2 linked regions of the Homo sapiens genome follow. The protein of the gene in region 1 binds, or shares a complex with, the protein of each later gene. Each region holds a gene or a part of one and is shown on either strand. Other genes may lie near its edges. A codon is read from its position in the direction of its gene.

Region 1 (7,293 bases):
CCTATAAAGAAGTGATTACTCTGTCCATGAAATAGATTTTCCATCACCCTCAAATTTATTTTTGCCCCTCAGAGGTGGAGGAGGAGAGCACTGAACTGTAATGTTTATACCCAGAAGCTGGTTTCTGGCTTCTGACCTTTATACTGTGGGGGATGGGACCTACTCCCTGTAGTCAGCGACAGAAAGTTTCAGGTATCTGTTGACTTTAGGTCCTTGGGCAGCAAAAAACTGTGCTCCCTAAAAATGTGTTTCTAGTTTCAGAGCTTCTGCTGAGAGTCAGGGTTATGAGGGCTGGCGGTGTACTTTGCTTTTCCAGAACCAGCAAGATTTCCCTGGAGCGAAGAAAGCCTAGGTTCATATTCCATACTCAGTAGTTATTTGCCACATGACTGCAAGCTACCTAGTGAACTCTTGGGAACTTCACTTTCCTCCTGAGTGAAATAAGATAAATAGCTCTCTTTCCAGGCTCAGTGAGGACTAACTTAGATACTGTACAAAGATAATTTGACATGTAATAGACAATCAGTAGATTTAGCTCTTATGTTGATCTTGCAAACCCTTCAAAGCTTTGGCTCAGTATATAAGTACAAACCATAGATGAATTGATTTTCTGCTGGTTATCCTAGAGCAAGACTCAGCAAACTTTTTTTTTTACACGGCACCGATAGTAAACATTTTAGTCTTCACAAACCATAGGGTCTCTGGTACAACTACTCAACTCTGCCATTCTAGTGCAAAAGTAAACAAATGAGTTTGGCTGTAGTTTTTTGTTTTTGTGTTTCTTTTTTTTTTTTTTTTTTTTTGGACGGTGTCTCGCTCTCTTGCCAGGCTGGAGTGCAATGGCATGGTCTTGGCTCACTGCAACCTCCGCCTCCTGGGTCAAGCGATTCTCCTGCCTCAGCCTCTTGAGTAGCTGGGACTACAGGCGCATGCCACCACTACCAGCTAATTTTTGTATTTTTAGTAGAGATGGGGTTTCACCATGTTGGCCAGAATGGTCTCGATCTCTTGACCTCGTGATCCTCCCGCCTCAGCCTCCCAAAAATGCTGGGATTACAGGCATGAGCCACCACACCTGGCCCGATTTGGGCTATGTTTTAACAAAACTCTTTGTAAAACAGGTAGTTTGTAGTGTGCCAATCCATGTTCCAGAGCATCATCATTTTTTTTTCCAAAACAATTTTTTTCTTTTAAATTAAATGGAGCCATGATCTCACTGTATTGCCCAGGCTAGTCTCAAACTCCTGGGTTTAAGTGATTTTCCTGCCTCAGCCTCCTAAGTAGCTGGGATTACAGGCACCTGCCACCATGCCTGGCTAATTTTTTTTCTATTTTTAGTAGAGAAACAGGTTTTGCCATGTTGGCCAGACTGGTCTCAAACTTGTGACCTCAGGTGATCTACCTGCCTCAGCCTCCCAAAGTGTTGAGATTATAGGCATGAGCCACATTGCCCAGCCTAAAAAAACTTTTTAATAGAGGAGAGCATCATCTCAGACTGTAATGTGGGGAGGAATGACTTGGGTGTCTTGTTAAAATGAGGATTCTGATTCCGGACTTCTGGGAAGGGACCTGAGATTCTGCATTTCTGACAGGCTCTCAGGTGATGCTCATATTGTTGGGCTGAGGACCACATTTTAAAGACAAGATTTTGTAATACTTACTACAAATCCTTCTTTCCAGAATCTGTTATTGTTGCTGTCTGTGAATAGTCAGGAAACAAGATGAAAAAATCAGAGATGTTTAGAAGAAAGGAAAGACTGACCATTTTCTTTAAGACAGATTTTGCAGATTTGGCCTTAATAAAAGGAGTGGTTTACTAGTCACAAAGGTCAAACAGTCTGCACTGGAAAATCGAGCTGCTTAATTCTTGGTCTTCGTTTCCTCTGTAGAGCACAGTGACAATCCAGACTCAGCGGTGTTTAGAGACTTGGAAAGAGTTTGAGAAGCCACTTAGCCACTTTATTTTCAGGTTTGTAGTTTTGCCTCCCGTTCTCTCCCCAGTAGGTTAAAAATGGGGAGTGGCAGGGCCCGCTCCACATCCACAGAGTCAGTTGAGGCAGGTGTCTGGGAGCTGCACTTTCCACAAGGTCCCCAGATTCTTCCTATGCACACTAAAGTTGAAAAAAATTGAGTTAGCTAATACCCTTTTGGTATAGATTAGGGAACTGGAGCCCTTCTGGAGCAGAGATTTTGCCTGTGGTTTTCTAGCAAGATATATCACTACACCCAGGATTCCAACTGAGGTAATAGACTTCAAATATTTTGAAGTGCTCCATGAAAAATGTAGCCATTGATTTTTGAAGGGAAACAGGAGAGACAAATGGAAGAAATTAATAATCCAATAGCTAACCTTTTACCCAACGGAACCTAGTACTAGGCTCTAATTTCCTTAATGTGTTAGTTATCTATTGCTCCTTAGTAATTATCCCAAAACTTTGTAGTATAAAACAACAAATATATTTATAGTAACTCACACAGTTTCTGAGAGTCAGGAATTTGGGAACAGCTTGGCCTAGTGGCTCCAGCTCAGAGGCTCTCATAAAGCTGCAGTGAGATGTTGGCTGGAGCTGCATTCATCTGAAGGCTTGACTGGAGCTGGAGAATCCACTTCCAACATGTCTCACTCACATGCTTGTTAGCTCGAGGGTTCAATCTCTCACTTTGTGGACCTCTCCTTGTGGTTGCTGGAATTTCTTTGTAATTTAGTAGCTGACTTCCTCTAGTGCAAGTGACCCCAGAAATGGAGCAAGACAGAAGTCACAGTGTCCTTTATGACATTGTGATAGCTTCAGAAGCCACATAACCTCACTTCAAGCCATATTCTATAAGACACACAGACCAACCCGAGACATGTGGAATGGGATTACTCAAGGGCATAAATACCAGAGGCAGAGATCATTGAGGCCATCTTGGATGCTGGCTAACCGTACTTAAAATCCTGTGTTCATCCCATTCACAAATCTAGAGAGGGACTCTTACCCTCAATTTTCAGATGTGGAAACTAAGGCACAGAGAAGTAACATATTGATGATCATGCAACTAGTAGTGCCAGAGCTGGTATCTGAAGCCATATTTATCTGATTTCAGATGGTCTCATTTCCAGAGATTTTAAAATAAAGTATTGGTATAAGTAATCCTTGTGTGAAAGCAAAGCAAAAGATCCAGAAGTTCAAACCAGCCATGTCAATTATCCATTGACTCAAAAATAAGTTTTAAGCACCTACTCTGTCCAGGCACTGTTCCAAGTATTAGGAATCCAGTAGTGAACTGAACAAAACCTCTGTCTTCTGGGAGCTTACCTTCAGACCCTTGATCTGTTAGATATCCTAGAGACTGTAGAATGTAGAGCTTACATGAAGACTAGGAGCCGGGGATCCCTTCCTGCCTGGCCTCCAACCCACTGGGGAACCCAGGCAATCCTTTCTTTCCCTGGACCCAGATGCTGCCTCTGAGAATGCGGCCCTTGGATGAAAGCAGAATCACCTGGGGTAATGAGTAGACATAACAGATTCCCCAGCCCAGACCTGCTGACCAGAACCTGTAGTTTTTGCAAGCTGTAGGTGACTCTAGTGCAGAAAATAATTTTGTGGTTCATAAGTGGGCCCACCAGATCAGCATTGCTCAGAGTATGGGGGCCCATCCCTGTCAGAGTTACTGGTGGCCCTGAGACAAAGCTCATAGCTCAAGAATCAGTGTTTTGAAGGTAGGACTGGGAAAAAGCATTTTAAACTAGATCTCCAGGTGATTCTATTTACTATGTGCCAGACACTGCTAAAGGATTTATAGGGATGATTCCATTGAATACAACTTGTGAGGTAGAAACTCTTAGCTACTCTATAGTTGAAGAGACGGGCTCAGAAACAGGCTTCTGATGAGTCTGATGCCAACCAGGTCCTGCCCAGTCTCTCTGTCTTCTGTCTTGACCCTGAGTGGGCCTGTCTGCTGGCACTGTGTGGGGGTCACTCTACAGGGCTCGGGTCATGGTCCCCCTGTGTTTGTTTCAGAAGCACGAGTTCTCTGTGGACATGACCTGTGGAGGCTGTGCTGAAGCTGTCTCTCGGGTCCTCAATAAGCTTGGAGGTGAGTGAGTGGCCCTGAGTTGGGTGCACTTATGCCATGTTCAGATGCATGCAGATGTTGCAGGAGAGACTTAGGGTTAAGCTGATCATAACAGTAAAACTAAAATATATTGAGTACTTAGCACGTGCCAACTACTCTTGTTATTTTCTTAGTGGCTTATGTGAATCACATCATTTAATCCTCACCACGGCCATTTCAGATAGTTTTTTTTTTACTAGCTCCATGTTAAACAGGAGACAGCTGAAGTTCAGAAACATTAAATAACTTATCTGGGATCACATGGTCAGTAAATGGCAGAGCTGGGATTTAGCCAAATTAACTAGTACTGCCAGGAGTAGCTCTGGAGCCATGGCAGTACTAGTTCATATGTTGGTCATCTCCAGTGTGTACTGCATGACACATCTGAGTGTCATTTTCTATTGAATTTTTTTTTTTTTTTTTTTTTTTGAGACAGAGTTTCGCTCTTCTTGCTCAGCCTGGAGTGCAATGGTGCAATCTCGGCTTGTTGCAACCTCCGCCTCCCAGGTTCAAGCAATTCTCTTGCCTCAGCCTTCCAAGTAGCTGGGATTACAGGCATGCACCACCACGCCTGGCTCATTTTGTATTTTCAGTACAGACGGGGTTTCTCCATGTTGGTCAGGCTGGTCTCGAACCCCTGACCTCAGGTGATCTGCCCGCCTCGGCCTCCCAAAGTGCTGGGATTACAGGCGCGAGCCACCCTACGCAGCCTCTATTAAGGTTTTTTAAATGGGGCTGGGCACGGTGGCTCACACCTGTGATCCCAGCATTTCGGAAGGCTGAGGCGGGCAGATTGCCTGAGCTCAGGAGTTCCCGAGACCAGCCTGGGCAACATGGTAAAATGCCATCTCTACAAAAAATACCAAAAAAATTAGCCAGGCATGGTGTTACATGCCTGTACTCACAGCTAATTTAGGGGGCTGAGGTGGGAAGATCGCTTGAGCCTGGGAGGTTAAGGCCACAGTGAGCCTAGATCGTGCCACTGCACTGCAGTGGGGGCAACAGAGCAAGACCCTGTCTCCAAAAAAAAAAAAAAAAAAAGAAAGAAAAAAAGGAAAGATTTAAAAAAAGGTAAAAATTTTTAAAATTTTGTCTTTTTCTGTTTCTTTACTTCAAAAAAAAAAATTTAAATTAATTTTGAATCACTCACATGCAGATTTTTTTTTTTTTTTTTTTGAGATGAAGTCTCACTCTGTTTGTTGCCCAGGCTGGAGTGCAGTGGCATGATCTCAGCTCATTGCAGCCTCTGCCTCCTGGGTTCAGGCGATTTCCGGTGAATTTTTGTACTTTTCATAGATATGGATTTCACCATGTTGGCCAGGCTGGTCTTGAACTCTTGACCTCAAGTAATCCGCCTGCTTTGGTCTCCCAAAGTGCTAGGGTTACAGGCATGAGCCACCGCACCTGGCCACATGCAGATATTCTTAAAGCACCTCTTTTGAACAATCAGTCTCATCCAGCCTTGTCATTTTACAGCTGGGGAAACTGAGGCCCAGAGAGGACTGGGATCTGGTCCTGGGACTCAGTGAGGTAATAACTGAGTTGTGATCAGAGTTTTGGCAATGCCAGTGCTCAGTCAGCCTTCTAAGATTTTTTCTTTTCTTTTTCTTCCACATGAACTATCACACAATCTTCTAAAATTTTCTTTTTTAAAACCCTAAATAATAATGACATTAAGTTTTCAAATGGCTTCCACATGGACGTGATCTCATTAGCAGTCCTCTGAGCTGTACTTTCCATCTTTGGAATGGGGATGTCGATGCCAGTGTCCAGGAGGTTAAGTGACTTGCCCGTAGTCCCGCAGCAAGTCAGTGGCTGGCCTCTAGCCCTGTAAACTGGGATCTTAATCTGAAAGAAACTGAAACAGTGGAAAGAACCTAGCTGCTGACTTGTCATGTGACTGTGGGCCCTTCTTTCTCGGGCCTGGGTTTCCCCAGCTGTGGTATGGGAATGTATATCTTGTATGTCTGTATCAGCTTTTGCTGTTGATGCTTTTTTTTTTCTTTTTCTTTTTTTTTTTTTTTGGAGATGGAGTTTGCTCTTTCACCCAGGCTAGAGTGGAGTGAAGTGGCATGATCTCTGCTCACTGCAACCTGCTCCACTCTGCCCCGGGTTCAAGCGATTCTCCTGCCTCAGCCTCCCGAGTAGCTGGGATTATAGGTGCCCGCCACCACGCCTGGCTAATTTTTTTTTTTTTTCTGAGGCAGAATTTCGCTCTTGTTGCCCAGGCTAGAGTGCAATGGCGTGATCTCAGCCCACCGCAACCTCCACCTCCCAGGTTCAAGCGATTCTCCTGCCTCAGCCTCCTGAGTATCTGGGATTACAGGCTCAGGCCACCATGCCCGGCTAATTTTGTATTTTTAGTAGAGACGGGGTTTCTCTATCTTGGCCAGGCTGGTCTCAAACTCCTGACCTTAGGTGACCTGCCCACCTTGGTCCCCCAAAGTGCTGGGATTACAGGCGTGAGCCACCGTGCCCAGCCTGTTGATGCTTTAAAAATGAAACTGTACAGGAGCTCCTCAAATACAAAGCAGCAGGCTCTGGATGAAGTGGGGATGGGCCTAATTTCGTTTGACAGCTCAAAGACATCTACCCATCCCAGGAACTTCATCCAGGCTGGAGTGCAGTGGCGCGGTCTTGGCTCACTGCAGCCTCAACTTCCCAGGCTCAAGCCATCCTCCCACCTCAGCCTCCTGAGTAGCTGGGACTACAGGACCACACCCGGCTATTTTTTTGTTTTTGTTTTTGTTTTTTGTAGAGACAGGGTCTTGCTTTGTTATGCAGGCTGGGAAACCATATGTTTTGTTTGTTTGTTTGTTTGTTTTGAGAGGGAGTCTCACTCTGTCTCCCAGGCTGGAGTGCAGTGGCATGATCTTGGCTCACTGCAACCTCTGCCTCCCAGGTTCAAGTGATTCTCCTGCCCCAGCCTCCCGAGAAGCTGGGATTACAGGCACATGCCACACACTGAGCTAATTTTTGTATTTTTAGTAGAGATGGGGTTTCACCACGTTAGCCAGGCTGGTCTTGAACTTCTGACCTCAAGTGATCCACTCGCCTCAGCCTCCCAAAGTGCTGGGATTACAGACATGAGCCACCACGCCTGGCCAACCATATGATTTTTAAGGCCCCTTGCTGGAAGATCTGCCTTTAAGCTTCGGCAGGTTTCTGCCCATCTTTTCCTACTGTCCCTGCTTG
Region 2 (4,496 bases), on another chromosome or scaffold:
GGAGAGTGCTGCCAGTTTAACTTGTCATGCACTGACACAGCATTCATGATGTTACCTTCACTTTTCAAAATATTGTAGAAGGATTTTTCTCATGCTCTTATATTAGGGATTCTATTTGAGTTGCGTTTATCTGTTGGCAAAAATATCTTTTTCAAGGCATCAGCTCTGAACCTAGCTTTATTTAAACTGAATTTCCAGTATATTTTTGTTTTCACTAACAACAGATAAGGTAGAGCAGTGAGGTTTACAACAAGCCCTACAATTAGAGATTGCTGAACTGCTGCTAAAGTGATTTTTTTTTTATTTGACCAAAAAAAAAAAGGCCCAAGAAGAAGAAAATGAAAAATTTGAAGATTTGAGAGCATGAAGATATTCATGCTTTTGAACTCAAAATATTGAAGATACTCTCAAGCCTGTATCCCTGCCCCACTGGGGAGCAATGACTTTCAAAGCACTGTGTATAAAACATCTAGTTTTAGAAGGGAAACAGTTGAAACTGTTTAAAAATAGATGTGCCTTATTTATTGCAGGCTTTCTTTCCCCCATTCTCCCTGCATCCTTGTCCTTGCAGGTGCTTTTTTAGATGCTCCAATATGTCTTCTTTTGTTATTTTCTTTCGAGCTAACCAAGTTTAGGTGGTTTTTCATTGATTAAAAATAACTGACAACTGTTCTAATATTTTGCTCCTTTTTAAATTTTGTAGCTCAAAAGACCTTAAAGGTCTGTAGGGTTCCCTGCCTCCCATCTTTCCACTGTTGTAAAAAGTATATCAAATTATTCCTTCAAGTTTCCTAGCTCTGTGCTCAGTTTCAGTTCACTCCTGCCAAGTTGGACTCTAAGTTATTCTTCATGTAGTCTGCTGATCTCAGTCTGGAAACTTAACATTATGAGCCTTTTCTGCTCAAAAAATTTTCAAAGATTAAAACTATTATACATATACAGGTCATATAAAATTACCTGGATTCACTAAATTTGTTTGTTGTTGTTGTTGTTGTTGTTGTTGTTGTTGAGACAGAGTCTTGTTTTGCAGCCCAGGCTGGAGTGCAGTGGCACCATCTTGGCTCACTGCAACCTCTGCCTACCGGATTCAAGGAATTCTCCCTGCCTCAGCCTCCTGAGTAGCTAGGATTACAGGTGCCTGCCACCACACCCGGCTAATTTTCATATTTTTCAGTAGAGACGGGGTTTCGCCATGTTGGCTAGCCTGGTCTTAAACTCCTAACCTCAGGTGATCCACCCGCCTTGGCCTCCCAAAGTGCTGGGATTACAGGTGTGAGCCTCCATGCCCAGCCTAAATTTGTATTTTTTGAATTGAGTATAATCACTTTGCTAGTATATATAATTTAATAGATTTTATTTATCTTTTAGTGTTTCAGATAACCTCTCAAAAAGACTTTAAAATAATGCTATTACACAAAGCTGCATTTACCAAAAAATACAGTAAAATCATAATACAGAAACTAAAATTTCCCTAGGTTATGACGCTTTTTAGCTAAATATATACTCTTCTCTAGTTTAAAACATTTGAACTTGCCTAGTTAGTGTGGTTGGCAAATTTAGGAGCTTGTTCCCATTGCCAAATGGATTTAGAAATTCCCTTGTGAGTGCCTGGTAGCTAATACACTGGTCAGAGATCTGGTACTTGTAAGACTATTTAAATTTCTTTGTTAGTTGCAAGATGGATTTCATATGCAGAATATGTAAATGAAGAGGACTCATAAGTAAATTCCTAACATTTTGTTCCCATTACCAGAAGCAAAGCTGCTGCTAACCCAACATCTGGCACATAGGATTTGTACTCGGTAAATGTTAGTTCTTTTCTCCCCTTGAGGTCAGTAATAAATACAAAAAAATCATTTTTCTAGAGCAGAGTCTTAAAATCAGGTGGGGGTAGGGGATGGAGTTCTTCCTTTCCTACCCCTTTTCTCTTTTATCCTTTCATATATACACATGCAAAGTTTACAACCTTATTCCATGCTGTCTTTCAGATTTAGAAAAGATCTAATTTCTGTCTCAGCTGTCTTAAAGAGAGAACTGAAGCTTTTGATGAAGGTGCTATTAATCTAGAAAGGCAAACCCATTTCACTGAAATATCAATGGGTTTGCATATCTAGGCCCTTTTTTTAGACCAATGCCTATGCCATCCTCCATGCTTTCAGTTTGAGTTTTATTATTTATTATTTTAATTCCAGTGGCCCATCTTATAATACAACTTGTTTCTTCTAGAAGACAGAGCTGATAGGGTAAATGTTGAAAAAAGAAGCATGCCTCCTTCTCCCTCCCACCCACCTCAAGCAGTTGAACACAGCCAGTTATTCTTCCATTATTATGTGTACCTTGGAGTCATCCTCTTGGTCTTGTATTCATATTGTGGGACAGTGGGAATAGCAGCTTGTAGTATTGAAATAATCAAAGAGATAATTTCAGCTCTTACAACAAGAACAGAAAACATGCTAATTAGAAAAAGTCCTGCTTTAAGTAATATGTAGCCACATTTGAATCCTCTACCACAAGTCTTTTTTGCAATCTTGAACTTTCATTAGCTTCAAAGAGAAGCTGTATTTACAGGAGAAAGAGGTGATTATGGAGGGAATCAAAAATACTGCTTTCAGTTAGTAGCTAGCTTTAAGTCAGGAGTTAGTAATGAGAAATTTTATAAATGTGTATTTCTGTGTATTCACATACATATATATATACACACATATATATGTACATACACATACATACATATTACCATACTGAAGGGAAATGGATTTATATTTGAATTTGATATTTGAATATTTGAAGTTCTCTATTTATATTTCATTTATCACTCTTCTGTATTCACTCAGCAACCATGCCCTTAGTCTGAAGATAACAAGGATACTTTAATATCCAGTGCCGGTTCAGACTCACCTATGTGGCACCTTAAACTTAAATATCCAAAGATGCCTTTTGAATTTCAAAGATTAAAACACAGCTAGAGTAGTAGTATTGTAGTCTCAAGATGTATGGTGTGTCATTTGTGAAAATAGAAACGTTATTTTTCCTAGTTTAGTATCAACATTTTAGAATGTCAAATTTGATGCCTTGTGAACAAGTAATTTTATATTGTGCTTTAATTTTTTAAAAAGTATTCTTTATTCATATGTATAGAATGCTTAAAATAGCACTGTAGACAAGATGTTTCCAAAACTTTAAGTGCGCATATCTTTTCTGTATACAGCTTAAAATCAAAAATGTATGTTAAGAGAATTTTTTCTATTACTTATGGATCATGCTTTAAAATGATTTTTCTTGATATTTATTTTACTCCATTTTGTTTTTTTCTCTGGGTGAGGCATCTGGTTACTGGTTATTTTAAAAAGAATAAAGACATTCCTGGAATCACTCCTTTTGGGTTTTTGTTTGTTTTGTTTCTTTTCTACATTTTTAAGTATTATTTTACAAAATAGAAAAAATATAGATTCATGCCAAATTATTACCTATTTTTACACTAACTTTCTGCAGTCCCTCCATCTGGTATGAGTAACCAGATAGAGCACAAAGCATGAGTTCTTGTTCTTCAGTTAAAAGAGCTTCTTTCACAGTGTTGATAACAAATGCCTTTTGTAGCCAAAACCAGGCGTCTCAACCTTACGTTTTTAGTTAAAGAAATGTTTAGCTAAACGTTGTTGAACATTGATTGTTTGGTACCGAAAACAGCAGTGGACGATGTTGTGCAATATCCATCTACTGTAGTTAAGATATTCAGTAGTTTGTTTTTCATAAGCATGTAATTGATCATATTTCTGCCAAGGATGTGCCTTCAACTTTATAATTATAGTGTTGTAAAATATTTTTGTCTGTCTCTTTTGTTAAATCATCCAACCCCCTCTATCAGCAGTTCTGAACTACCTTTGTTATATTTTTATTTTTTTCAACTTTTCATCTATGATGGAGGTGGATTATAGGCATCACTACACTTTCGGTTAGGATGGGAGGGAAGAAATCTATTTTCCTTCGGACTCCACTACACCTGCCATATCATTCAGTGAGGATGAGAAATAAAGGAAGGAATATTATTGTTCTGCTTTCCTTTGTAGTCTCTAATACATTCTTGATAGAATGTCTACTCCAAATGAGCTAAACAGAGAAAAGAGATTTTCTTGCCATTGGGGAGCCCTATACAGAGTGTTTGAAGTTCCCACCCAAGATACATTCCCATACCCGAACACTCCTTTTTGAGTTAAGGAAACCATTGTAAACTTGTGAGGAAAAACTAATTTTCATTTCCCCCCAAATCCTTGGGGTTACTCAGGGTGAGGAGATAGGATGGGAAATGGCAAAATAAGAGTAAAATCCCCAAGGCATCCACTCAGCTTGCCAGCCTCCCTTTCTTATTGGTATCCTGACCTCAGAGAAGGATGTGTACTGATGGCTACCTCCCAGGTGAACCTTCAAAACCTTCCAGATCAATAAAACAAAACAAAAACCTTTCTGTTGGAGAATCCTTGCTAGATTAAGGCATCAAAGTC

The links.
Region 2: the proteins of ATOX1 (region 1) and ATP7A are in contact, whole or in part, in an NMR structure (PDB 2K1R), measured with the Homo sapiens proteins. Residues at the interface, in NP_004036.1 of Homo sapiens: Thr11 (codon at 4,029), Cys12 (codon at 4,032), Gly13 (codon at 4,035), Gly14 (codon at 4,038), Cys15 (codon at 4,041), Ala18 (codon at 4,050), Arg21 (codon at 4,059), Val22 (codon at 4,062), Lys25 (codon at 4,071), Lys57, Thr58, Gly59, Lys60; in NP_000043.4 of Homo sapiens: Cys19, Asn20, Ser21, Cys22, Trp24, Thr25, Gln29, Asp67, Asp68, Met69, Gly70, Phe71, Asp72.

The regions. Positions count from the first base shown.
Region 1 is NC_000005.10:151,748,491-151,755,783, reverse strand, and holds part of ATOX1 (copper transport protein ATOX1), read left to right. Parts: intron 1-1,661; exon of another isoform or gene 1,662-2,111; intron 2,112-2,474; exon of another isoform or gene 2,475-2,704; intron 2,705-4,004; coding exon 4,005-4,080; intron 4,081-7,293. UniProt on the Homo sapiens protein: Binds and deliver cytosolic copper to the copper ATPase proteins. May be important in cellular antioxidant defense.
Region 2 is NC_000023.11:78,046,579-78,051,074, forward strand, and holds the end of ATP7A (copper-transporting ATPase 1), read left to right. Parts: 3' UTR 1-3,817; downstream 3,818-4,496. UniProt on the Homo sapiens protein: ATP-driven copper (Cu(+)) ion pump that plays an important role in intracellular copper ion homeostasis.